Homo sapiens: one gene and its partners. The protein of the gene in region 4 purifies or fractionates together with the protein of the main gene of each other region. This does not show direct contact. Each region holds a gene or a part of one and is shown on either strand. Other genes may lie near its edges. The genes, in order: OAS1, SRPRB, OSBPL11, NCAM1, NCAN, SLC15A1 and FPR2.

Evidence for each region.
Region 1: the proteins of NCAM1 (region 4) and OAS1 purify together in Homo sapiens (co-immunoprecipitation; one large-scale study listed by IntAct). This does not show direct contact.
Region 2: the proteins of NCAM1 (region 4) and SRPRB purify together in Homo sapiens (co-immunoprecipitation; one large-scale study listed by IntAct). This does not show direct contact.
Region 3: the proteins of NCAM1 (region 4) and OSBPL11 purify together in Homo sapiens (co-immunoprecipitation; one large-scale study listed by IntAct). This does not show direct contact.
Region 5: the proteins of NCAM1 (region 4) and NCAN purify together in Homo sapiens (affinity purification with western blotting, with the first as the bait; one study listed by BioGRID). This does not show direct contact.
Region 6: the proteins of NCAM1 (region 4) and SLC15A1 purify together in Homo sapiens (co-immunoprecipitation; one large-scale study listed by IntAct). This does not show direct contact.
Region 7: the proteins of NCAM1 (region 4) and FPR2 purify together in Homo sapiens (co-immunoprecipitation; one large-scale study listed by IntAct). This does not show direct contact.

Annotation. Positions count from the first base shown.
Region 1 is NC_000012.12:112,913,462-112,916,961, reverse strand, and holds part of OAS1 (2'-5'-oligoadenylate synthase 1), read right to left. Parts: intron 454-3,500; coding exon 224-453; intron 1-223.
Region 2 is NC_000003.12:133,804,469-133,808,614, reverse strand, and holds the start of SRPRB (signal recognition particle receptor subunit beta), read right to left. Parts: upstream 2,801-4,146; 5' UTR 2,767-2,800; coding exon 2,613-2,766; intron 2,007-2,612; coding exon 1,912-2,006; intron 870-1,911; coding exon 792-869; intron 1-791. UniProt on the Homo sapiens protein: Component of the signal recognition particle (SRP) complex receptor (SR). Ensures, in conjunction with the SRP complex, the correct targeting of the nascent secretory proteins to the endoplasmic reticulum membrane system.
Region 3 is NC_000003.12:125,553,998-125,557,497, forward strand, and holds part of OSBPL11 (oxysterol-binding protein-related protein 11), read right to left. Parts: intron 1-3,500. UniProt on the Homo sapiens protein: Plays a role in regulating ADIPOQ and FABP4 levels in differentiating adipocytes and is also involved in regulation of adipocyte triglyceride storage. Weakly binds 25-hydroxycholesterol. Interacts with OSBPL9 to function as lipid transfer proteins.
Region 4 is NC_000011.10:112,964,420-112,967,919, reverse strand, and holds part of NCAM1 (neural cell adhesion molecule 1 isoform 2 precursor), read right to left. Parts: intron 1-3,500.
Region 5 is NC_000019.10:19,214,958-19,218,457, reverse strand, and holds part of NCAN (neurocan core protein precursor), read right to left. Parts: intron 1,512-3,500; 5' UTR 1,505-1,511; coding exon 1,432-1,504; intron 1-1,431. UniProt on the Homo sapiens protein: May modulate neuronal adhesion and neurite growth during development by binding to neural cell adhesion molecules (NG-CAM and N-CAM). Chondroitin sulfate proteoglycan; binds to hyaluronic acid.
Region 6 is NC_000013.11:98,746,173-98,749,672, forward strand, and holds part of SLC15A1 (solute carrier family 15 member 1), read right to left. Parts: intron 1-3,500. UniProt on the Homo sapiens protein: Electrogenic proton-coupled amino-acid transporter that transports oligopeptides of 2 to 4 amino acids with a preference for dipeptides. Transports neutral and monovalently charged peptides with a proton to peptide stoichiometry of 1:1 or 2:1.
Region 7 is NC_000019.10:51,767,606-51,771,031, forward strand, and holds the end of FPR2 (N-formyl peptide receptor 2), read left to right. Parts: intron 1-1,039; 5' UTR 1,040-1,053; coding exon 1,054-2,109; 3' UTR 2,110-2,926; downstream 2,927-3,426. UniProt on the Homo sapiens protein: Low affinity receptor for N-formyl-methionyl peptides, which are powerful neutrophil chemotactic factors. Binding of FMLP to the receptor causes activation of neutrophils.

The DNA of each region.
Region 1 (3,500 bases), on a different chromosome or scaffold from region 4:
TCAGTTTACTCACCTGTAAAATAATTGGCATAGTGCCTGCCTCACAGGGTTGGAGGTAGGTGTTTAAAACAGATGGCAGTAGTAAAATGCCCAGTACAATGATGGGCAACAGGAGATTCTCACTAAGTGGGGAGCCCTCCCACCTCCTCCATTTCCAAGGCACTGTACCTGTATCCAGGTGTTCATTTACATAGGGGAGCTAAGCCATGTGGGGATAGCATACCTGGGTTTCGTGAGCTGCCTTCTCAGGTACTTTTCAATAATGGGGTTTTTAAAGTCATAATACTTTGTCCAGTAGATGCAGAGTTGCTGGTAGTTTATGACTAATTCCAAGACCGTCCGAAATCCCTGGGCTGTGTTGAAATGTGTTTTCATGCTCCCTCGCTCCCAAGCATAGACCGTCAGGAGCTCCAGGGCATACTGAGGTGGCAGCTTCCCAAGCTTCTTCTTACACTGAGAAGAGGAAAAACAATCAGAAAAAAATTGGTTTGCTCAACTTTTGTGTAAACTACACTTCTCATGGGCCAAATCCAGCCTGCCACCTGTTTTTATAAAGTTTCCTTGGAACGAATCCAGGCTCATTCATTTATGTATAGTTTATGACTGCATTCATGCTACAAAGGCAGGGTTGAGTAGTTGCAACAGAGGCTGTGCAGTCCACAAAGTCTAAAATATTTACTATCTAGCCTTTTATTTTTTAAAAAAGTGTACTGGCCCCTTGTTAAGAGCGCTGGATTCTTATTGATGTGGGTTTGAATCCTGGCTTCACCATTGTCCAATTCTAAGTAGATGACTTAGACTCTCAGAGCCTCATGATTTTCATCTGCTAAGTGAGTGGTTGTAATAGCACCTATCTGATAAAGATACTACGAAAATTAACTGAGAAGAAGGACTTGTAATGTTCCTAAGAAATGCACAGAAGCAAATGAAATTCTTTCTGGAGGAATATACATAATCCAAAACCTCAAATTATTTCACACATAATTTTCAAATACAATGACCAGCACATATGTAACCAGGCACACAAGGAAACAAAACACTAAGAGTTATGACCAACAGAAAGAAGAGAAATAGTAATAAACCTACAAACTTTAAATGCTGAAAGACCGAACACAGACTTTAAAATAACTAGGAACTCTACAAGGAAAACTACAAAACATTGCTGAAAGAAAATCATAGATGACACAAACAAATGGAAACACATCCCATGCTCATGAATGGGTAGAATCAATATTGTGAAAATGACCATACTCCCAAAAACAATCTACAAATTCAATGCAATTCCCATCAAAATACCACCATCATTCTTCACAGAACTAGAAAAAACAATCCTAAAATTCATATGGCACCAAAAAAGAGCTCACATAGCCAAAGCAAGACTAAGTAAAAAGAACAAATCTGGAGGCATTACATTATCAGACTTCAAACTATACTGTAAGGCCATAGTCACCAAAACAACATGGTACTGGTATAAAAATAGTCACGTAGACAAATGGAACAGAATAGATAACCCAGAAATAAAGCCAAACACTTACAGCCAACTGATCTTTGACAAACCAAACAAAAACATAAAATGGGGAAAGGACACCCTATTCAACAAATGGTCCTAGGATAATTGGCAAGTTGCATGTAGAAGAATGAAACTGAATCCTTCTCTCTCCCCTTATACAAAATTCAACTCAAAATCGATCAAATACTTAAATCTAAGACCTGAAACCATAAAGATTCTAGAAGATAATATTGGAAAAACCCTCCTACACATTGGCTTAGGCAAAGACTTCATGACCAAGAACCCAAAAGCAAATGCAACAAAAACAAAGATAAATAGATGGGACTTAATTAAACTAAAAAGCTTCTGCAAAGCAAAAGAAATAATTAGCAGAGTTAACAGACAACCCACAGAATGGGAGAAAATCTTCACAATCTATACATCCAACTAATATCCAGAATCTACAAAGAACTCAAACGAATCAGCAAGAAAAAAAAAATCTCATCAAAAAGTGGGCTAAGGACATGAACAGAGAATTCTCAAATGAAGATATACAAATACCAACAAGCGGGGTGGGGGGAATTGGGGAGGGATAGCATTAGGAGATATACCTAATGCTAAATGACGGGTTAATGGGTGCAGCACACCAGCATGGCACATGTATACATATGTAACTAACCTGCACATTGTGCACATGTACCCTAAAACTTAAAGTATAATAATGAAAAAAAAAAAAAAAAAACAAATACCAACAAGCATATGGAAAAATGCTCAACATCCCTAATTATCAGGGAAATGCAAATCAAAACCACAATGTGATACCACCTCACTCCTGCAAGAATGGTCATAATAAAAAATCAAACAATAATAGATGTTGGTGTGGATGTGGTGAAAAGGGAACACTTTTACACCATTGGTGGGAATGTAAACTCATACAACCACTATGGAAAACAGTGTGGAGATTCCTTATAGAACTAAAAGTAGATCTACCATTTGATCCAGCAATCCCACTACTAGGTATCTACCCAGAGGAAAAGAAGTCATTATACAAAAAAGATACTTGCACACACATGTTTATAACAGCACAATTTGCAATTGCAAAAATATGGAACCAGCCCAAATGCCCATCAATCAATGAGTGGATAAAGAAAAATGTTATACACACACAAACACACCATGGAATACTACTCAACCATAAAAAGGAACAAAATAATGGCATTCACAGCAACCTGGATGGAATTGGATACTATTATTTTAATTAAATAACTCAGGAATGGAAAACCAAACATTGTATGTTCTCACTCATATGTGGGAGCTAAGCTATGAGGAAGCAAAGGCATAAGAATGATACATGGGACTTTGCGGACTGCGGGGAAAGGGTGGGGTGTGGCAAGGGTTAAAAGATTACACATTGGGTACAATGTACACTGTTTGGGTGATGGGTGCACCAAAATCACCACTAAAGAACTTATTCATGTAACCAAACACCACCTGTTCCCCCAAAAACCTATTGAAATAGAAAAATTAAAAATAAAAAAAAATAGTCCTCTCTCTGTGATCAGTGGTTTGAATGAGGACAGGAAAGGAGAGGTATCAGAGCCATATATGTATACACATGAATCTGTGTGTGCTCATGTCACAGAAAAGAAGTGTAAATAAAACATAAGATTAACAAATAATAAAAATTAAAAATAAAATAACTAGGAATATCATATTCACAGGATAAAATAAGAACTTTAAATAGTTAGCAGGGAATTAAAAGCCATAAGAAGTACCATGGCAGATACAAAAATATGAAATAGAAATTTTAGGATAAAAATGGCAACTGTAATTAATTACAGCAAATTAGATATAGCTAAAGAGAAAATTAGTTAATTGGAAGGTAGATTAGAAGGAACTATTCAGAATAAAGCATGGAAAAATAGACAAAAGGATGAAAAACACAGAAGAGAGTATAGAGATATGAAAGATAGAGCAGGGTCTAACATACATTTAATTGGAATTCTAGAAG
Region 2 (4,146 bases), on a different chromosome or scaffold from region 4:
CAGGCCCCATGATTCCTTATATTTGAAATACACTCATATATACTCTGTAAGATATCCATTGCAGCACTGTTTGTAAAAGCAAAGGTTATAATAACAAAACTAAATGTCTATTAACACGGTCCAGATTAAGTAAGAATTTAATTTTATGGTATAGCAACAGAGTGGAGTACTATGCAGCTCATAAACCAACCAGATGGTACTATGTATACAAATGTAGGACAATAAGAAAAGCCCAAGTTGTATCAGCCGTATGAGAAAAATAATGGGCAGAACAGCATTTAAAAAAAAACAACAATAAAGGATATACAGACATGTTTGTATATGCACAGAACATCCGGAAGACTACATACAAAAAAAAGTAAGTCACTGCTTCTGAGGAGAAAACTAGGTAGTGGGGAAAGGAAAGGAAAAATTACTTTTCACCAAATATCTTTTCTAACCTTTTGAATTTTTGTCCCATGTGCATGTATTACCTATTCAAAACTTAAAAGGTTTAATGCCCACTCTTAAGAACTCATTGTAAAGTTGGAAAGAAGACACAGAAACAAAAAATAAGAATAAAATGTGATATAACATTACTGTACATTAAGGTACAACAATGCAGAGGAGGGCATGATTAAATCTACTGTACAGATTGTCAAGAGAATTTGTCACAAAGAATATGTTTCTCCATAAAAATAAGCTACAAATGGTACTTACATCCTCAGATGAACTCATCCTAAAAATGTCCTTAACTGACACACCACAGTAAAGTAAGACTGTCAGACTCCAAAACTCCACAAACATCTTACCCTGTTATTGTTGACTCTGTATACAGCACAGCTGTCAGTAATGGACGTCTGAGTGTCTCTATAAAGGCCTGTTAACAACTGTAAAAAAAACAAGATGGGTGATATTCAACATTTTAATAGCACACCTAAATTGAGTTATATTATTCTAAGTCTCCCAGGTGTAAGGTTAAGTAAATGAATGCTGCTTCCGACAGGTGAAAAAGACGATATTGATTTTTTTTACCTGTAGAAAAAAATCTAATTAATTGCATATTTTACTCCTCAGTGGAATAAAAACAACATTATTCTCAAAAGACAGTTAGTGGCCAAATTTGCCAAGCTTCTGTAAAGATTTTTAACCAACAAAAATGATTTGAAGCCTGGGCAACATGGCAAAATCTCATCTCTACAAAAAATATAAAAAATCAGCCGGGCGTAGTGTTGCACGCCTGTAGTCCCAGCTACTCGGAGGCTGAGGTGGGAGAATCATCTGAGTCCCAGAGGTCAAGGCTGCAATGAGCAGAGATCTCGCCACTGCACTCCAGCCTGGGCATTGGAGTGAGACACTCCCTCAAAAAAAAAAAAAAAAAAAAAATGGAGGTATTTCTTTAATGGAAGGGAAATAATTTATACTCTCAAAAAGAAGAGTTAAAAAGCAGAAAACCTCTCCTATTCACCACATTAAAATACACTGTTAAAAATACTAAATGTATTAAAAATAAATATTAGTAAAAAGAAGCCTAACTAGCCCACTATGTCAAAGAAGGATCACCCTGTGAAAAAGTGTCTTCGATAAACTGTCCTAAGAATTTGTTAACGAAGGAATTATAAACTGTAGGACACTAGCTTCTATGCCTTCTGCTATTCTGGAATGAAACTAATTAAATAAAATCCTTGAATGTGATAAAGACTAAATATCAGCATCTGGCAAGGGCAAACAGAAAAAAAAAAGGAGAAATGACCAATATTTCTCAATTATGGGTTTCTACGAGTCTTTTTGTTCTCCCAAGTAAGTCAAGAATTAACTTCCAAATTTAACAGCATCAGCTTCTTTTACAAAATAAACCGTGAGATGACAGGAATACTGGGATCTATAAAATTTTCTATTAAGCTTAACAGGGGTGTCAATGAAATCATTTACCCTGACAAAGAGCAACGTTTTCCCGGAATCACAAAGGCCAACAAGAAGAACAGCTCTCTGACTGCTCCTTCTGCTCCGGATTAACTTCCAGAAGACTGTGGAATAGACAGAGAAAAACAACAAAAATTACGCCTTGGGAATCAGTATATGTGCATGGCTGGGGTGGGGAAATTCACAGAAGTCTGTGACGAAACACCTCATTCACCTGGAACTGACTTTTATCATAATGGTTACTATTGCTGTTGTTAGGGATCCACTGAGAGCCAGGCACTGTCAACTGTCAACTTTTCTTTGCAGTCCTTACTCTGACTGGGACTCAGGTGCTATCTCACTACCTTGGTATCCCAGCGCCCGCACGCAAACACGGGAGGCTGAAAGTTGGTGTCAAGACCCTGAGTCTTTGCAGTGAGAACAGCGGAAGGCGAGGAACAGCGCGCTCAAGCGTAACAGGGCAGATGACGAAGAGCAATCTGCGCCCCAAGGACCAGGACGTTAACTCCGGGGGTTGCCCGGCATCCCCCTTAACGCCCAGCTGCTGCCGCTGCTTCAGGAGAGAGGGTGGGGTGTAGACTGGGTGGGTCTCACCCTCCTGATGCCCTCAAGGCGCCCTCTCAGCCCCGCGTCCCCGGCCTGCAGCGGTGCAGCCAAAGCCCGGACCTCTGCCCGCCCCAAACCCGCCATGACCACCGGCCGCCTTTTACCTAGCGTCAGCAGCACCGCAAGAACCGCCACCACTACTGACAACAGCGTTGGGTCCGTCTGCTGCAGCTCCTGCCGCAAGGTGTCTAGGTAGGGCTGGAAGGTGCCCCCGGCACCGCCGCCATCTGCCACCCGGCGCGAGTCCGCGGAAGCCATGGATGAGACGCGTGGTCCCCGGTACAGCAAAAGCGACGTGGCCCTGCACTCTGCGCAGGCGCGGGGAGCAGAGCCTCACGCGAATGGTGGTTCCTAAGCCATAGTCTCTCCCTCAGCCGCGGCGATCCCCCAAGTGCTTGATGGGAGTTGTAGTTCTCTGGGACTCCGTCCTCCTACAGAACGATAGGGGCAGACAGGTTATTTGTCGAGGGACACACACATCTTTTAAGAGATGAGTCAGTCGTCGTCACCTACGTTATGACTGTTGAAAGAATGATGAAATGAATAAAATGAATGAATGGCTCCCGAAACTACCACTGAGGAGTTCCCGACCGTCGCTAAGTGACGTGAGACTTGTGAAGAACTCAAGCATCCTACAAACATTTAATCTGAATTTAATGTGACAAGGGATGTGACAGATGGATGTACGGAGCGATGTGGGAATACATAATGGGACGCGGAGTCCATCATGAGTTCAGAGAAAAGCTTCTGGACATTGGAATTGAGTCCTGAAGAATGAGTTAGCATCTGCGAGTGGTTAAAGGAAAAAAAGGTGCTGTGCAGAAGAAAATGAGTGTAAGAAACGATGTATGTGGGAACCCTAAGTAATTCAGTGCCCCTACACTGTCAATCTAGGGCTGCAAACTCAAATGTCTGCATTAAAGGAAGCAACTAGGAAAATCAACGCCCAGGAGAGCTGGGGCTGTTGAAAACTGCAGGAGGTATTTCTGCTGAAAGTAGGGCCGACCCTATTCAGCCAGGTAGGTGTTATGGGACCTGGGTGGCCGGTTCTTCCAGTTTTCAAGAGAAGCAATAAAGGCAGATTTTTATAGGAAATTTTCCACTTTTGAAATTTTCTGTAGGTAATTGAAAGCATTCAAAAACTTGTGGCCCAAATAAAACACCAAAAGTGGCCAGCCTAGAGGGTCCCAGTTCACAGTCTCTGTCATTAAACAGCTGTCATTGTTTTAAAATGTACACATTATTTAATTTAATTGTATGGCTGAGTAGAGACATGAAGATGTCAGTGTCACTGAAAGATTGAAAAAAGTTTATTACAGTTCCACATTGCCATTGAAAAAGTTGTCAGCATCAAAATGGAGTCACTTGTATTTTTTTTTTTAATCAGAAAAATGGAGCTGGTGAAAGGCCATGGAGGGAGGGTTCTCAGGCACCCATGCCTGATGACAAAAACTGTCACAAAAGACTGCAAAAACCACAGACTTGCACAAAGGCCATCGCAACCTTACACACAAAAAAATACATCTGTTAGGACGGCTACCCAGCAACTCCCTGTCCAACCTAGTACTGATGCCATCCTTGCCATTTGATCCTTGTAGCCAAGGATAATTATCTTAAAACAATTATGGAATCTGACTC
Region 3 (3,500 bases), on a different chromosome or scaffold from region 4:
TCCTAAAAAGGCTCAGGAGCTGATCGCACTAGGTACCTCTGGATCTGGGGATTCACAGAAATGATAAAATAAAAATAACTGAGTAAAATCTGTATGGAAAGCAATTAGATGCCTAACTCAAACCCCCAACTCCACACTGTTAGTAACTACCCTCTTGGACCTCAAAGTCTAGAGGTTTAGCCTCTGGATAAACAAGGTGGTCTATTCTCTAGACTGGAGAATAGCAAGGAATTCTAAGAGAGTGGATACCAAGTGATACATAACAAGGGCATTTAATAACTCCATATAAACTAAACGTTAGCTATTAACACCCTCTCTCATGCAGCCTTCTTCTCCTTTTTAACTCCTTTTGGAGTCACCAAGTATGAGATGAAAAAATTTTTCTTCTGGGAAATTTGACTAAACCTAGAAGAAAAACCTAATGATACTGACACCAAGTCTCCCAACAAATGGCCCATCCAGATTATGGGACAATGAAAAACATAGGCGCCACCTACGTGTTAAAGCTTAAAATCAGATTTTAGTTTCCCTAAACTTAATTGTGAGCAGAAGATCTGATTTCTGAGAAAACCTCTAACTAGGAATATAAAGAACAAAATAAAGAAACAGATTTGGAGGAAACAGAAACCTCAAAGGAGGGGAAAAAACAAAAATAAAAAATAATATCTTCAGAGAATTAAGAAGATATTATATACATACAAGAATGCTTTTTAAAAAAATCAGAAAATTTAAAAACATGACAATAATTAAAAGTCAAAAGAAGAGTTAAAAGATAAAAGGCGAGGAAATCTCCCATAACACAGAAGACAGACAAAGAGAGAAAAAGAAAAGTATGAGAGAACAATAAAAGACCAGACCAGGAAGTTCAATGGCCATATAATAAGGATTTCAGAGAAAACAAACAAACAAACAAACAAAATAGAAGAAAGAAAAATCATTGTGATGGTTAATATTGAGTGTCAACTTGATTGGATTGAAGGATACAAAGTACTGTTCTTGGGTGCGTCTGAGGGTGTTGCCAAAGGGGATTAACATTTGAGTCAGTGGATTGGGAGAGGCAGACCTACCCTCAATCTGTGTGGGCACCATCTAATCAGCTGCTAGGATAAAAGCTAGCAGGGGAATATGGAAGGACTAGACTTGCTGAGTCTTCTGGCCTACATCTTTCTCCCCTGCTGGATGCTTCCTGCCCTTGAACATCGGACTCCAAGTTCTTCGCTTTTGGACTCTTGGACCTTCAACCACAGACTGAAAGCTGCACTGCTGGCTTCCCTACTTTTGAGGTTTGGGGACTCGGACTGGATTCCCTGCTCCTCAGCTTGCAGATGGCCTATTATGAGACCTTACCTTGTGACTGTATGAGTCAATATTCCTTAATAAACTCCCCTTTATATATACATCTATCCTCTTATTTCTGTCCTTCTAGGAACCCTAATACAATCATCAAAGAAATAATTCAAGAAAATTTCAGAGAACTCAAAAACATGAGTTGTCACACTGAAAAGGCCCACCAAGTGCCCAGATACAATGGATAAAAGAAACCTACATCAATGTCACAATACCAAGACATGATAAAGAGAAGATTCTAAACAATTTTGGAGAGAAGAACATACAAAACAAGTCACAAACAAAAGATCAGGAATCAGAATGACTTCAGTCTTTTCATTAGAACCCTGCAGCACGGAGATATTATCTTTTTTTTTTTGAGATGGAGTCTCGCTCTGTCACCCAGGCTGGAGTGCAGTGGCGTCATCTCAGCTCACTGCAACCTCCACCTCCCAGGTTCAAGTGATTCCTGTGCCTCAGCCTCCTGAATGGCTGGGATTACAGGCATGTGCCACCATGCCTGGCTAATTTTTGTACTTTTAGTAGAGGGGATTTTGCCATGTTGGCCAGGCTGGTCTCAAACTCCTGGCCTCAAGTGATCTGCCTGCTTTGGCCTCCCAAAGTGCTGGGATTACAGGCGTGAGCCACTGCACCTGGCCACAAGTAACAAATTCTATCTAAACCAGCAATGAAACACGAGGGCAACACAGACATTTCAGACACACATTTTCACATTCGCTTCTTACAAATCTTTCTGAGAAATTAATGGAGGATATATTCCAACAAAATGAGAGGCAACCAAGAAAGAAGAAACGGATACAGTAAACGGATTAGCCAAAGAGAATGCTAAAGGAAATACTGGTCCAGATTAGAGTGATGTGACTCAAGAGACAGACATACTGAAGACTGTCATCCACATGCTTCATGCTGCCATTGTATCATCTTTTCAAACCTCAGGATAAAATAGCCTAGTGAAACTGATCCCAAGTGTATCTGTATTTGGCTTGTGTTGACTATCTGCTGGTGAAGTTCTTAGTCTCCTCTCCATGTTCTGCTGTCTGGATTGGCTGAAGATGCTCATTTCCCCGAAAGAAGCCTTCTGACTTCAATCTATTCCTCAGAGTTGGAGGTAGGTCACAGTTTGCTTTGAAACTGAAAATACTGAGCAGCTCACTCCCCCAGCCCACATTCCTCCTGTAGCTGACTCACACCAAATGCTCTGGGATGTATATTTTACAGGACTCACAACTTTGCCTTATAATTTCACAAGAAAGGGCTCTTCTAAACTTTCTCAATAACTTATAAGAAGCTAAAGCCAGAGACTCAAATGTTTAACTTGTCTTTTTCTGGGAGCTGCTTTCTACAAATGGCAACACAGTCCTTTCCTTATGCTAAGCTTATGTTAGCTATTCATTTTTTCCTAAACATCATTATGGAGTACAAAAAAGCAGTAAAACTATAGCAAAAAGTAGAGGGATAATTAACACACAAGTCAAGTAAATTGTTTTATGGAGGAAAAAGTAGAGGACTATAAATTAGAGGGGAACTCAGAGATTCCAAGTTCAGGCAGTGTTCTACAACTTAATGTCAGAGGTAGATACATGGGTATTCATTTTATCTTTTTTCTTTGAATGTTTATATGTATACCATTCAGTCTTCTGTGTGTTTAACACATTTCATACACACAAAAATTAACTGAAAAAAGGAAGTAAAACAAAATTCCATATAAACTATGACAATGTGAAGAAAGATAAAAGTGAGAGCTCTGTTATGTTAGGGTAGTAAAATGATAGATTTTCTTTAGTTTTCTAAAATTTTGTGTTTATATAATTTCATAATATTATTTAAAAAGAAACAAAATGAACAGTAGGAAAATGCATATTACTTATTCACAACATGAAGGCTAGGACCATGGTTATCTTATTTGTTCCTGTCCCAAGACCTAGCACAGTGTCTGGAATATAACAGGGGCCCAGTAAATATTTGTTAATTAAGTGTTATTGTTAGATAAGAGGTAGCTGTGACTGCAGTTTAGTCACCAGGCTCTTTATTTTTATTTATTTGTTTATTTTTTTTGAGACAGAATCTAGCTCTGTCGCCCAGGCTAGAGTGCAGTGGCGCAACCTCAGCTTACTGTAACCTCTGCCTCCTGGGTTCAAGCGGTTCTCCTGCCT
Region 4 (3,500 bases):
ATTTTCCTTAAAGAAGGCCCTCAAAATTATATACCCTTCAGGCCCAACAAGACCTAGATCCACCCTTGTGCTGATGGTTTTCAACCTTATAATCAGGCCATTTTTTTCTCTGAAGTATTCACAACCAACATGGAATTGCAGGCATATTTAGTGACCAATTTTTTAAGCCTAGTTCTAATCTCTGAAGGAGTCCTGTGTATCATAATACCCTTTTTAAAATCCTTCTAAAAAGAGGGCACTATGTCTAAATAATTATTTTTTCCAGATCCATATATATCCTTCTTGCTCACTAATGAACACTGCCTACATGCACTGAAGTCCTAAGATCTCTAAAATATTTATAACTCTAACAAGTAGGCATTACTAATTTTCCGATCTCACGGAAGAGGAAACTGAAACTTGAAGGAGTTAAATCATTTGTCTGAGATCAGACAGCTAGTAAGGGATATGTCTGGGGTTTCAACCCAGGGTTATCTACCTCTCTTAATCTCTAGTCTCTACTACTCCCAAGGTTCCCTGACAGCAGAAATTATGTCATCTCACTCCTTTTAATTCCCCACAGAGCAGATGATAAAAAGCTGGCACTCAATAAACATATTTGATCAACTATTTAAGAGAATACCTAATGTAACACAATCTCAAACAGTGTGACATTACTATGAATATTCTTAAATGATGAGGTAATCAGATACCAAAGGAGGTGATTAATGTACAACAAAAGGCATTTTACACCTTATCTCAGGAATGACGCCAAATAGAAAACGGAAGATCAGCTGTTACCCATGTTTGCAGCTACAAATCAAAAAGTCCTCAGAGTACGAAGTGGAATATAGGTTACATAGAAGCCTTTTAAATCATATCAGCCATGCAATCTTTGAATTCAAGAAAGTGTTACGTATATATGGAAGAAAATAGAATGCATAATGGGTTTATTACAATCTGTTTTTCAAAAGCACACATACACAAGATACACCAAATAGCTTATCCTTTTAGTGCAGTCCTCTTGGAGTCTCCAATTGCTTAGAAGCTAAATTAATACTGCAGGAAAGGAAAAGTGTGTCTACCCAACTGAAAATCCGTTAACTCAGTGGCTGCATGTAGACATGGCCTGAGCATGTTTTAAATGTAACGTATTGAAACTGCCTGAAAGGCCGCCATTTGGCACCCAGGCCAACATCAAAAAGCAATGCTCCTAATGAGCATCTGCAGCTGAGAGACAGTATTTCAACAACATGAAATGAAAAGGCATAATGGCACCACTGCCAACGCCAAATAATTTACATCCCTTTACATCAGCAAATGGTTTTAAGGTTTGGCCCCAAGAGTTAATAACAAAAGAGGCTAGAGGTAACAGGACTATGACCTTCAGATTGACTTCTGTATTCTATTACCCTACAGTAAGTAGTAAGCATATCTACCTGTATTGTTAAAAATAGTTTCACTACAATGTTTTCGAATAGTGAAAACTCTGGAGCTCATAGAAACCTAATCATTAGGATTCAGAGGTCCTTGGACATTTCCTCCTTCCTAAAAGACCATCTCTTACAGCATTGCTCAGAGTCACTGAGTATATTATGAAAAGTAAAAAATTTTCTTCTTCGAATTTTACTTAGAATTCTTTCTTTTTAACCAAAGGAATTTTCACCTTAGTGACTTTTATTAAAAGCTCAAATGACTTCATTTTATACAGCCACGTGATTAATGTTTTCAATTTTGTGTAATTTGTAACCCAGTTTTAAGATCAGTAAAATGCTCCCTGTAATGTGCTGCCATTTCTTTTAAAGTTCCAGACATTCCTTAGTCTATATGTTATAACTGCTAAACTGAAAAATGATCAATTATGGAATTTACATTAAAATATTTATCTTGACACCAGAAAACATGTGTGTGCTCAAAAAAGCAATGCTGAACTGGTGCAGGAGAGCCTTTATAAGATGTCTTTGTCTCCTCCTAGTCTATGATTCTTCCCGCAGACTGACGGGGGCAGGTGCGATCCCTTCTCTCCCTGGCCTGCCAATTGGTTCTGCTCTCCATCACAAGCTCAAGATCCTAAAAGTGCAACCCGTTCTTTAGCAACAGGTACTCAATCACTTATTTTACACTAAGTCAGAAAGGACTGTCTGTAAAATGTCTTTGGAAGCCTGCCAGTAGTATTGAAGCCACTTTCAGTCTGGAGAGCAGCCACAGTTCTTTAATACTAAAGACAAAATTATGAGAAATTTATCAAACTCATACTTAACAGAGGCTTCATCACCTTGAAAAATTAAGTGGTTGCATCAGAAATTCCAGAGTCCATTATTTAAGCAGTGTAAATTTTACAAAATGCTCTCTATAATTTGAGAAACTGGGTTCTGTAGTGAACAAAAACATGTCTAAAGATTAGCTTTTGAGTGACAAAATGGTGCTGTTTACTTTGAAAGGCAATTAAGACATTGTTCCTTGTGACAGAAAAATACAGATATAGGTTACTTCCATTAAATTACATATTACCTATCTGAGGAATTCAATTAATGATAAATGGATTCCAAACAGAAGCACTGTTCAAAACTTGGAATTTGGGGGTGCTACAGACTAATTTCTCCTTCTTATTGCTGCCTTCAGTAAACACCCACATCCCTTACAAATAGCACACCCACATCATTTTTTTTTCAGTTTTGATGTGGGATTTTTTTTTCTTTGCAATTACTATCTTAATTCTTGAACTATCAAACTCAAGAAACCAGTCACCAGTTAAATCAACATATTCTTAGTTTAATCAATTATCATTGTAAGACTTAGAGGAAACTCCTTTACTAAACAAGAATATGTCCTGCTATTTTCTGGTATTCCATTTTTAAAAAAAAAATCCTAGATAAAGGTATCTGGAAGGAAGTTATCAGGTTCAACAATTTAGGGAAAGAAAGAGGGCGTTCATAAAGCATTAACTTAAGAAAACAGTTAAAGACTAATGGAAGCTTAGCTAGGTTAGCAGATCTTTAAGACCTTTATAGAGGGAATAGTAACTCAAAAACTTACATAAATCATAGCCCACACGTCTACAATGTCTGGATTATATTCCCTGTTTTTAATAACTCTGTTGGATTTAAAACAAATTATCAGTTATTAATATTTCTAAATATGCTAGTATTTATTGAAAGAAAATAATCTTTCTAGGGTTTGGTTAGAGTTGTGAAAGGTTTTCCACATTCTTATATAGCCTTTATTACATTCAGTGAAATTCTGTTTAAAAACACACATTCTCAGTCTTCAAATGAAAATCAACAAAAATATATGGCTCACTATAACTGTGCTCACAGTCAACTTTGTGGAAGCGCACCTTAATTTGCTTAGTGAGAGATATTATATATACTACTTGATTTCAATGTTAGCTTTTGTAAAGTAGCTCTTTGTTCTTAACCGATGGTATCTTGTTAGAAACCCAGTCCTATCCATTCCTTGACTCTTGCAAGTTTAACTGGCAGAAGACTGCAAAATTATCAAGTAAACATGTGACTTAACCA
Region 5 (3,500 bases), on a different chromosome or scaffold from region 4:
TGAGTCTCACTCTATCGCCCAGGGTAGAATGCAGTGACATGATCATGATTCACTGCAGCCTCAAGCTCCTAGACTCAAGCAATCCTCCCACCTCAGCCTCCCGAAAGTGCTGGGATTATAGGTATGAGCCACTGTGCCCAGCCCCTTATTATTATTATTCTTTTATTTATTTATACTTTTGAGATGGAGTCTCGCTCCATCTCCCAGGCTGGAGTGCAGTGGCATGATCTCAGCTCACTGCAACCTCTGCCTCCTAAGTTCAAGCAATTCTCCTGCCTCAGCCTCCCCAGTAGCTGGGATTACAGGTGTGTGCCACCACGCCTGGCTAATTTTTGCATTTTTAGTAGAGATGGGTTTCACCATGTTGGCCAGGCTGGTCTCCAATTCCTGACCTCAACTGATCCACCTACCTTGGCCTCCCACAGTTCTGGGATTATAGGGGTGAGCCACTACACCCAGCCTTATTATTATTTTTTTGAGTCTGACTCTGTCACCCAGGCTGGAGTGGAGTGGCATGATCTCGGCTCACTGCAACCTTCGCCTCCCAGGTTCAAGCGATTCTCATGCCTCAGCCTCCCGAGAAGATGGGATTACAGGCATGTGCCACCACACCTGGCTAATTTTTGTATTTTCTGTAGAGACGGAGTTTCACCATGTTAGGCAGGCTAGCCTGGAACCCCTGACCTCAAGTGATCTGCCTGCCTCAGCCTCCCAAAGTGCTAGAATTATAGGCATAAACCACTGTGCCTAGCCCCTCACTTTATTTTTATAAGGACAGGGATTTCACTCCAGTGCCACTGATTCACTGTATGGCCCTGGGAGAGGCATTTTCCTTCCCTGAGCCCCAGTTTTTCCGAAAGGTAAAGCAAAAGACAGCTAATGAAAAGGAAATGGTGTTTGCAGAGTACCATCTTTGTAACAGGCACTTTATAGCAATCAGCTCATTTGATTTTCATAACCATCTGCAGAGTAGCAATGTCTCATTCTCTTTGGGGGGAGTTGAGGAAACTGAAGTTCAGAGAGATAATTATACTTGCCTAAGGTCACAGACCAAATCTGTGAGGGATTTCTAAAACCTGGGCTCTTGACCACCAGTAGAGGGACACAGACCTTTATTTCCATCGCTCCACCCTTGGCAGACATCACTAATCAATCTCTGCACTATTCTCATTTCTTTCTTTCTTTCTCTCCAGTTCATCTGAGCAAAACGATGAGAGGCGGGAATCTCCAGCTTCTGCTGACAATGACTAAAAATAACCTCTTAGGTATCCTGTTCGCTTTTGACTGTTCAAAGACCTTTTAAAATCTATTCTCATTTTATTCTCTAGCCCATGCCAGGAGACCAGCAGGAGAAGGCTCTGGAATTCAAAAGCTGCCCCATCTTGTCCATCCCCTAGACCCCAATCTCTCCCTCCCCACAAACCAACTCACCCTGTTCCCCAGCCACAAAGAGCAGCATCTGCAGCATCAAAAGGCCCAAGGCCCAGACAAACGGGGCCCCCATCCTGGATCTGGAACAAAATGGAGAGGGAGGGAGGGGTGAGCCACAGCCCAACCCTCCCAGATATTCAGCATTGCAGGACCAAACTCCCCCACTCTACAGATCAGGAAACCAGGGCTCAGAGAGACCAGTGTGTTATTCTAGGTCACAGAAGGAGCCAGCAAAGGGCTGAGCCAGAATTCGAACCCAGGGCCACTTGACCTCAGAATAGCAGTGGCTGGACGCGGTGGCTCACGCCTATAGTTCCAGCACTTTGGGAGGCTGAGGTGGGAGGACTGCTTGAGGCCAGAAGCTTGAGACCAGCCTGGGCAACATAGTGAGATCTTACCTCTATTTAAAAAATTAGCAGCCAGGCGTGGTGGCTCACGCCTGTAATCCTAGCACTTTGGGAGGCCGAGGAGGGTGGATCACGAGGTCAGGGGTTCGAGACCAGCCTTACCAACATGGTGAAACCCCGTCTCTACTAAAAATACAAAAATTAGCTGGGCGTGGTGGCAGGCGCCTGTAATCCCAGCTACTCAGGAGGCTGAGGCAGGAGAATTACTTGAACCCGGGAGGTGGAGGTTGCAGTGAGCCGAGATCACGCCACTGCACTCCAGCCTGGGCGACAGGGTGAGACTCTGTCTCAAAAAAAAAAAAAATTATCTGGGCTTGGTGGCGCACACCTGTGGTCCCAGCTATGCAGGAGGCTGAGGTGGGAGGATTGCTTGAGCCCAGGAGTTCAAGGCTGCAGTGAGCTATGATTCCACCACCACACTCCAGCCTGGGTGACAGCGCGAGACTGAAAACAAAACAAAACACAACACAACAACAAAAAACAATCCAAGCAATGAAGTCTGTGGTCAGAAGCCTGGGTGCTGGTAGTGAATCAAATCTGGAATTGGCTCACTGTTCCTTTTGTGTGATCTTGGGCAAGTTGCTTACCTTCTCTGTGCCTTACTTTCTTTGTGGGTCAGATGGGGATAACATCAGGTAGTTGAAAGGAATGGATGAGTCAATACATATAAAATGCTTAGAACTGTCTCATGCAGTAAGGGGTACATTTTAGCTGCTGCTATTATTATTACCGACCTTAACACAGCCAAGACTGAAATACCATTTTTCAAGTCAGCCTCCTCCATCAGACTGGCGGCTCCTAGAGGGCAGCAGTCTGTCCCAGTCCTCCCAGCATCCTCAGTCCAGGCAGCAGGCTGGCCTCTAAGCCATCCTTTAATCTGGGTTTGCTGGCTGACACGATTCGCAGCTTCAATTCCAGGATTTGGTTGTCACCAAGATTCTATTCTTGGTTTCTGGGATTTTGGAGGAGCCGCCAACTCCCAGCTGGAGGAAGGGGCTCACCCCTGCCCACCCATCCTCCTCCTGACTTCACACAGCTCAACAAAGATACTTCTTAGGCCCACAGAGAAACTTCAGTTGTGGGTCCATTTCCCTATAGGGGCTAGGACCCATAGGGATAAAGTGGACAATTATTAAGCGCCTACTGTGAGCAAAGCCCATGCCAGTCGTTGGGACACAGCAGTGCATTTCCTGACTTCACATTGTTCCAGAGACTAGGAATCCTGGGGAGGTGGTCCCTCCCCAAAACCTCCCACTCCTGCGAACCCCGGTCACCAGGGCTCAGGAGGTGGGCGCAGATGGAAAATTAGAACATCATCTGCAAACCCAATCCTTGCTCCCCGCCCCCATAAGAAATTATCCCTGAGGAAGGGGTGTGAACGGAGTCCAGAAGGGGAGGCTGTATGTGACAGCTGTCCCTTTCCCCAGTTCTCCTTCCCAGCTCCCAGAGTCCCCTGCTGGGAGGCCGGCCTGGGACCTGTCCGTGGTGCTGAACTCTGAGGCGGCAACGCAGCGGCAAAGCCCACCTAGTCCACCCCTGCCTCCTGCCTGCTAACACGATGCCTCAGGGACCAGAGAGGGCTAGAGGTTTGCCTCAGGCTGCACAGCAGGGTAGAGGTCAAAGCCAGACCCTGGACCAGTGCTCCCAACTACCAACTTGTAA
Region 6 (3,500 bases), on a different chromosome or scaffold from region 4:
CTCCATCCATGTTCCTATAAAGGACATGATCTTGTTGTTTTTTTATTGCTGCGTAGTATTCCGTGGTGTATATGTACCACATTTTCTTTAGTCTATCATTGACAGGTATCTAGGTTGCTTCTATGTCTTTGCTATTGTGAATAGTGCTTCAGTGAACATATGTGTGCATGTGTCTTTATGGTAGAATGATTTATATTTTTTTGGGTATATACCCCGTAATGGGACTGCTGGGTCAAATGGTAGTTCTTGGAGGAGTTGTCACAATGCTTTTCACAATAGTTAGACTAATTTACACTCCCACCAGCAGTGTATAAGCATTCCCTTTTCTCTGCAAGGTGTTTTGATTTAATGGAAAAAAAGGAAAAACGTTTATTTCCTCAAGAACATCTCAAATGTATAAACATCTGCCATGTCCTAATAGAGCTTATAATAAAATCTTGTCACTAGGGGCAGATTGTAGAAGTTCTAAATGCCTAGTTTGAGAACTTTTAACGAGCCTTCTTATGGAAGTACATTTTGTGAATTTTCTATTTGTTAATCTGATCTCTGAACCAAAATTCCCTCTGGACATGGACCTGTTGTTCCATATCCCCACATCATACCTGGAGGACTCTAAACCCTCTCTCCAATGAGAGACCCCTTTCCGCAGCCCGGTGAGGAGCTTTGAGCAGTTTCCAGTCTAGGAACCAGGAGAGGAACTAGACCTTCCTCCTTCTTAAGCCTCTGTGGAAGACCCTGTCCCTGTGCCCCGTGGCTGTGGCACTTCCCAACGGCTGAGCCTGTGCTTTAACTGTGTTCTCATAGCTGCCCTCATCCTAAACCCCAAAAACCAGAGGGGCCGAGAGAAGAGGTGTGGCCCCCCCCACCCCGGCTGACACAGCCTCCTTTGTATCACATCCATGAGGTGAACCCAGGGTCCAGTGTCCTCCGCAATAGACTTCCAGCTTCTGAAACCAAGGGACAAAGGTACAAAAGAGTGACTCCCTGGTTCTTGGTGTTGCAACCCCGGGATGATGAGTCAACCGTGCTCGCTCAGCTGAGAATACTGCTCTTTCTCTCACTGTCCTCAAGGAAGAATGTGGAAAGGTTCCTCAGGCCTGACCCTTGTTTTTATTTCCTTATCGGCTCACCTGGGACACCTACCCACTTTCTCATCCTGCAAAGCATAGAATCAAGACGCAACTGTGTCTGAGAGCTTCTGCCTCCACCATGGGAACACACCTGGCTGGGAAGTCTTAGCTCCAAAGTTCTACACCAGGCCCCCAGTCATCAGCAGCTCCACCATGGGGAATAGAGTAGCAGTCCCATTTTCTAGGGAGGATTCCTGGTAGCTCAACTAGCCCATTGAGTAAGCCCTGTTTGTTCTTCATGGAATGGTTCAGTAACTCAAAGGGCAGTAGAAAAAAATTATTAATCAAAAAAACCCAGCCTGGCACAGTGGCTCAGGCCTGTAATCCCAGCACTTTGGGAGGCCAAGGCAGGCGGGTCACCTGAGGTAAGGAGTTTGAGACCATCCTGGCCAACGTGGTGAAACCCCGTCTCTACTAAAAATACAAAAGTTAGCCAGGTGTGATGGTGCGCACCTGTGATCCCAGCTACTCTGGAGGCTGAGACAGGAGAATTGCTTGAACTCAGGAGGCAGAAGTTGCTGTGAGCCGAGATTGTGCCACTGCACTCCAGCCTGGTTGACAGAGCAGACTGCATCTCAAAAAACAAATGAACAAACAAAAAAACCCAAGGGAATCGAAAATGGAATAATCTTACTCAGGACATTTTGTAAGAGACGTGAAAGACCATGCAAACATTTAGCATTCCATCCAAACTGGGCAAACCTAAAGTAGGCAAACCCTCCTGCTCAGACAAACACTCCTAGTTGCTGCTTTCACTGGTCTCATAGTACCTCATTTTCCTCAACTCTAACTCGGAGTGGAAGAGTGTTGTTTACGGGCTTATGTTCCTGCCCCCTGAGGATATAATTTCTTCAGGCAGGATTATTTTTATCCTCACATGGTTAAGTAAATACCTGCATAGATATGCAATTCAGGTGCATCCTGGCCAGCCCAGCTGAACCACATTCATTTCTCACTCCTATTCATTTCTACTCTCTTTACTTCTTTGTTTTTGTCTTGTTGTTGCTTCAGACACAGTTTCTCTGTTGCCCAGGCTGGAGCACAGTGGAGCAATCTTAGCTCACTGCAACCTCCACCTCCTGGGCTCAAGTGATCCTCTGGCCTCAGCCTCCCGAGTAGCTGGGACTAGAGGTGCGCACCGCCATGCCCAGCTAATATTTTTGTATTTTTTTTGTGGAGACGGGGTTTTGCCATGTTGCGCAGACTGATTTCAAACTCCTGAGCTCAAATGATCCGCCTGTCTCAGCCTCTCCAAACGCTGAGATTACAGGCGTAAGCCGCAGTGCCCAGCTATCCCTACGTTAAGACGGCACCGGCAGACTAATTCTCAAGTTCTACCTGCTAATTTACCCAATGCTTCATCATCACGGACATGTACCCACATGGACAAGCCAGGGCCCAGACTGTACTAGACCTTCCCACAGCCTAATTTTAGGGCACAGTGGCAACATGTTCACATGGGCAGGGGTCAAAAAAAAGAACCCAGGGGATCTTTAGAGTCGTGGTTCTCAAAGCGTGGGCCTGGGAGCAGCAGCATCACACCACGTGGGAACGTGGTCAAATGTCAGTGCATGAGCTCTACCCTGCACCTGAGACTCTAGGCAAGAGGCCCAGCGAGCCCCACTGCTGGAACAAGCCCTCACTCAGATAAGCCTGATGCATGTTCAAGTTTGAAAAACGCTGACTTAGAGCAATATTAGCCCAAAAGAACCCAATGTTAGAAGTTCTCTTTTCTTGCTGCTGGCTAGGAGGAGGTGAGTTCCCCCGAAGGTCATATGCCAAAGGCTTCCTTCAGTGTGGGACCACCTCTATAGCTTGCAGCAGGGACACCAGCTGCCCTGGTACTTCAATATTGTTCTTCGGTTGACTCAAGAGTTGACAGGAGGAGGAGAGAATGTGGAGGGACGCACCAGGTGTGAGGGACCTTCACAGCCCATCCATCATTTTAAGCTCAGGCAGCTGACTTGGAAAAACCTATCAGAATCACAAACAAGGCCAGCCAGGAGGCTGAGATCTGGTGGGGCAGGAAGAGAATAAAGTATCCTACTTTAAGTGAGTGAGTATCTCCAATCAACCTGGAGGTCTTGGCAGATAGAGGCAGGTGCTTGCTGCATTGAACCTGAAGCCTTGTACCTAATTTTCAGAGTCCATTTAGCATAGTCTTGCTAAGCTTTGGATAAGGGAGTGAGGTGGGGTGGGAGGAAAGAGATCAAATAGTCAAAACCTTCAGCAAAAGCACCCCCAGCCCTATGATCCTACGAAGGCTTCGGAGGCTGCTTTTTCTTACTGACGCTTCTTCCCAGCATATAAGAAGTTTTCTGCTATTCAGAGACTGAATTCAACCTGACAGCCCTTGGGAAAAGAACATCT
Region 7 (3,426 bases), on a different chromosome or scaffold from region 4:
TTCAAGCAGAGAAGAATGGGGAACCGTTGCTGGGTGGGCAACCAGCAATATCTGTCAAGCGTAAGGGTTTAGAAGTCAGACCATGCCAAACTGAAGTCCTGAATCTATTATCTACTACCTAAGTGACCTTCAACACATTTCACAATTGCCCTGAGCTTTCATTTATTCTAATGAAAACTAGAAGTAATGAATATTACATAGCTATTACATAGGCCAAACCGGATCCCATATGTAGTAATTAACACAATGCATAGTCTCTAATAAGAACTTCACAAGTATTAATACAACTTATTATTCTTATAGTCTTTATCCCACAGACACCAAAGCTATACAAATCGGCACTGATTATTTGCATTCCAAACAGAGAAGAGCTCCACATCAAGCAGGGACAGGGAAAAGCAGAGGGTAGAAAGCAGAGATGGAACTCTCTTTGCTGACTTCCTCTAGTGCAGAATCCTCAGGATATAACATACTACTACATGTTACCAGTGACTCCTCAAAATTCTCTTCAACAATAACCTCAAGCCAAACCCTCAAACTTTATCTTGAGTACTAGCCAAGCAATAGGTCAAGGGTTCTCACAGTTTGAGGGACAGGAGTTGGGAGACTGGAAGAACCTGGGGCTGAAAGAGATTGCAGAGCTTGCCAGCATGTTTGCATTGAATGGTGGGAGACACAGATGTGAGCCTTCTGATTCTGAGTCATGTGCCTTCCTCACAATGCTGAGGCTGCCTATGCTCAATTTTCCATTGTCCATACAACATAAGTTCAGTATGAGCCTTGTAATCCTCTTGGTGAAGTGATCAGCCCGATAAGCGAAATGCATATTGATAATGATGGGAATATGGAGGACTATCCCTTCCCAAAGGAGCATCCAAGAGAATGCCAATTCTATAGCACCGTTGTCAACAAGGCTTGGTAGATAGAGTGGGTCTCCTGGTAGGAGTGGGAGCTTTAGTGGAAGTTGATGTGAGCTATAAATACAGATGCTGTAAGATGGTTCCACAGCTGAGAAATGGCCATTGTTGGAATGTTTCAGGTGCTGCTGGCAAGATGGAAACCAACTTCTCCACTCCTCTGAATGAATATGAAGAAGTGTCCTATGAGTCTGCTGGCTACACTGTTCTGCGGATCCTCCCATTGGTGGTGCTTGGGGTCACCTTTGTCCTCGGGGTCCTGGGCAATGGGCTTGTGATCTGGGTGGCTGGATTCCGGATGACACGCACAGTCACCACCATCTGTTACCTGAACCTGGCCCTGGCTGACTTTTCTTTCACGGCCACATTACCATTCCTCATTGTCTCCATGGCCATGGGAGAAAAATGGCCTTTTGGCTGGTTCCTGTGTAAGTTAATTCACATCGTGGTGGACATCAACCTCTTTGGAAGTGTCTTCTTGATTGGTTTCATTGCACTGGACCGCTGCATTTGTGTCCTGCATCCAGTCTGGGCCCAGAACCACCGCACTGTGAGTCTGGCCATGAAGGTGATCGTCGGACCTTGGATTCTTGCTCTAGTCCTTACCTTGCCAGTTTTCCTCTTTTTGACTACAGTAACTATTCCAAATGGGGACACATACTGTACTTTCAACTTTGCATCCTGGGGTGGCACCCCTGAGGAGAGGCTGAAGGTGGCCATTACCATGCTGACAGCCAGAGGGATTATCCGGTTTGTCATTGGCTTTAGCTTGCCGATGTCCATTGTTGCCATCTGCTATGGGCTCATTGCAGCCAAGATCCACAAAAAGGGCATGATTAAATCCAGCCGTCCCTTACGGGTCCTCACTGCTGTGGTGGCTTCTTTCTTCATCTGTTGGTTTCCCTTTCAACTGGTTGCCCTTCTGGGCACCGTCTGGCTCAAAGAGATGTTGTTCTATGGCAAGTACAAAATCATTGACATCCTGGTTAACCCAACGAGCTCCCTGGCCTTCTTCAACAGCTGCCTCAACCCCATGCTTTACGTCTTTGTGGGCCAAGACTTCCGAGAGAGACTGATCCACTCCCTGCCCACCAGTCTGGAGAGGGCCCTGTCTGAGGACTCAGCCCCAACTAATGACACGGCTGCCAATTCTGCTTCACCTCCTGCAGAGACTGAGTTACAGGCAATGTGAGGATGGGGTCAGGGATATTTTGAGTTCTGTTCATCCTACCCTAATGCCAGTTCCAGCTTCATCTACCCTTGAGTCATATTGAGGCATTCAAGGATGCACAGCTCAAGTATTTATTCAGGAAAAATGCTTTTGTGTCCCTGATTTGGGGCTAAGAAATAGACAGTCAGGCTACTAAAATATTAGTGTTATTTTTTGTTTTTTGACTTCTGCCTATACCCTGGGGTAAGTGGAGTTGGGAAATACAAGAAGAGAAAGACCAGTGGGGATTTGTAAGACTTAGATGAGATAGCGCATAATAAGGGGAAGACTTTAAAGTATAAAGTAAAATGTTTGCTGTAGGTTTTTTATAGCTATTAAAAAAAATCAGATTATGGAAGTTTTCTTCTATTTTTAGTTTGCTAAGAGTTTTCTGTTTCTTTTTCTTACATCATGAGTGGACTTTGCATTTTATCAAATGCATTTTCTACATGTATTAAGATGGTCATATTATTCTTCTTCTTTTATGTAAATCATTATAAATAATGTTCATTAAGTTCTGAATGTTAAACTACTCTTGAATTCCTGGAATAAACCACACTTAGTCCTGATGTACTTTAAATATTTATATCTCACAGGAGTTGGTTAGAATTTCTGTGTTTATGTTTATATACTGTTATTTCACTTTTTCTACTATCCTTGCTAAGTTTTCATAGAAAATAAGGAACAAAGAGAAACTTGTAATGGTCTCTGAAAAGGAATTGAGAAGTAATTCCTCTGATTCTGTTTTCTGGTGTTATATCTTTATTAAATATTCAGAAAAATTCACCAGTGAAGCCAACTTGGTCTTGTGTTTTCTTTCTGGGAAGATTTTTAATAACAAGTTTGTTTTCTTTAACAGTGATTAGACTCTTCTGTTTTTTGGTTTTTTGTTTTTTCCTATCTGTCAGTTTTGGTAAACTGAATTTCAAGGAGTTTGGCCATTTCATTCAAACTGTCAAACTCATCGGCATAAAATAGTATAATAACTGTTTAAAAGTTATAAAACAGCATGAAACTTGGCTGGGTGCGGTGGCTCATGCCTGTAATCCAAGCACTTTGGGAGGCCAAGAAGGGTGGATCACCTGAGGTCAGGAGTTTGAGACCAGCCTGGCCAACATGGTAAAACCCCATCTCTACTTAAAATACAAAAATTAGCTGGGCATGGTGGTGCACACCTGTAATCCCAGCTACTTAGGAGGCTGAGGCAGGAGAATTGCTTGAACCCGGGAGGTGGAGGTTGCAGTGAGCCAAGACTGTGCCATTGCACTCCAGCCTAGGGGACAAGAGTGAGACTTTGTC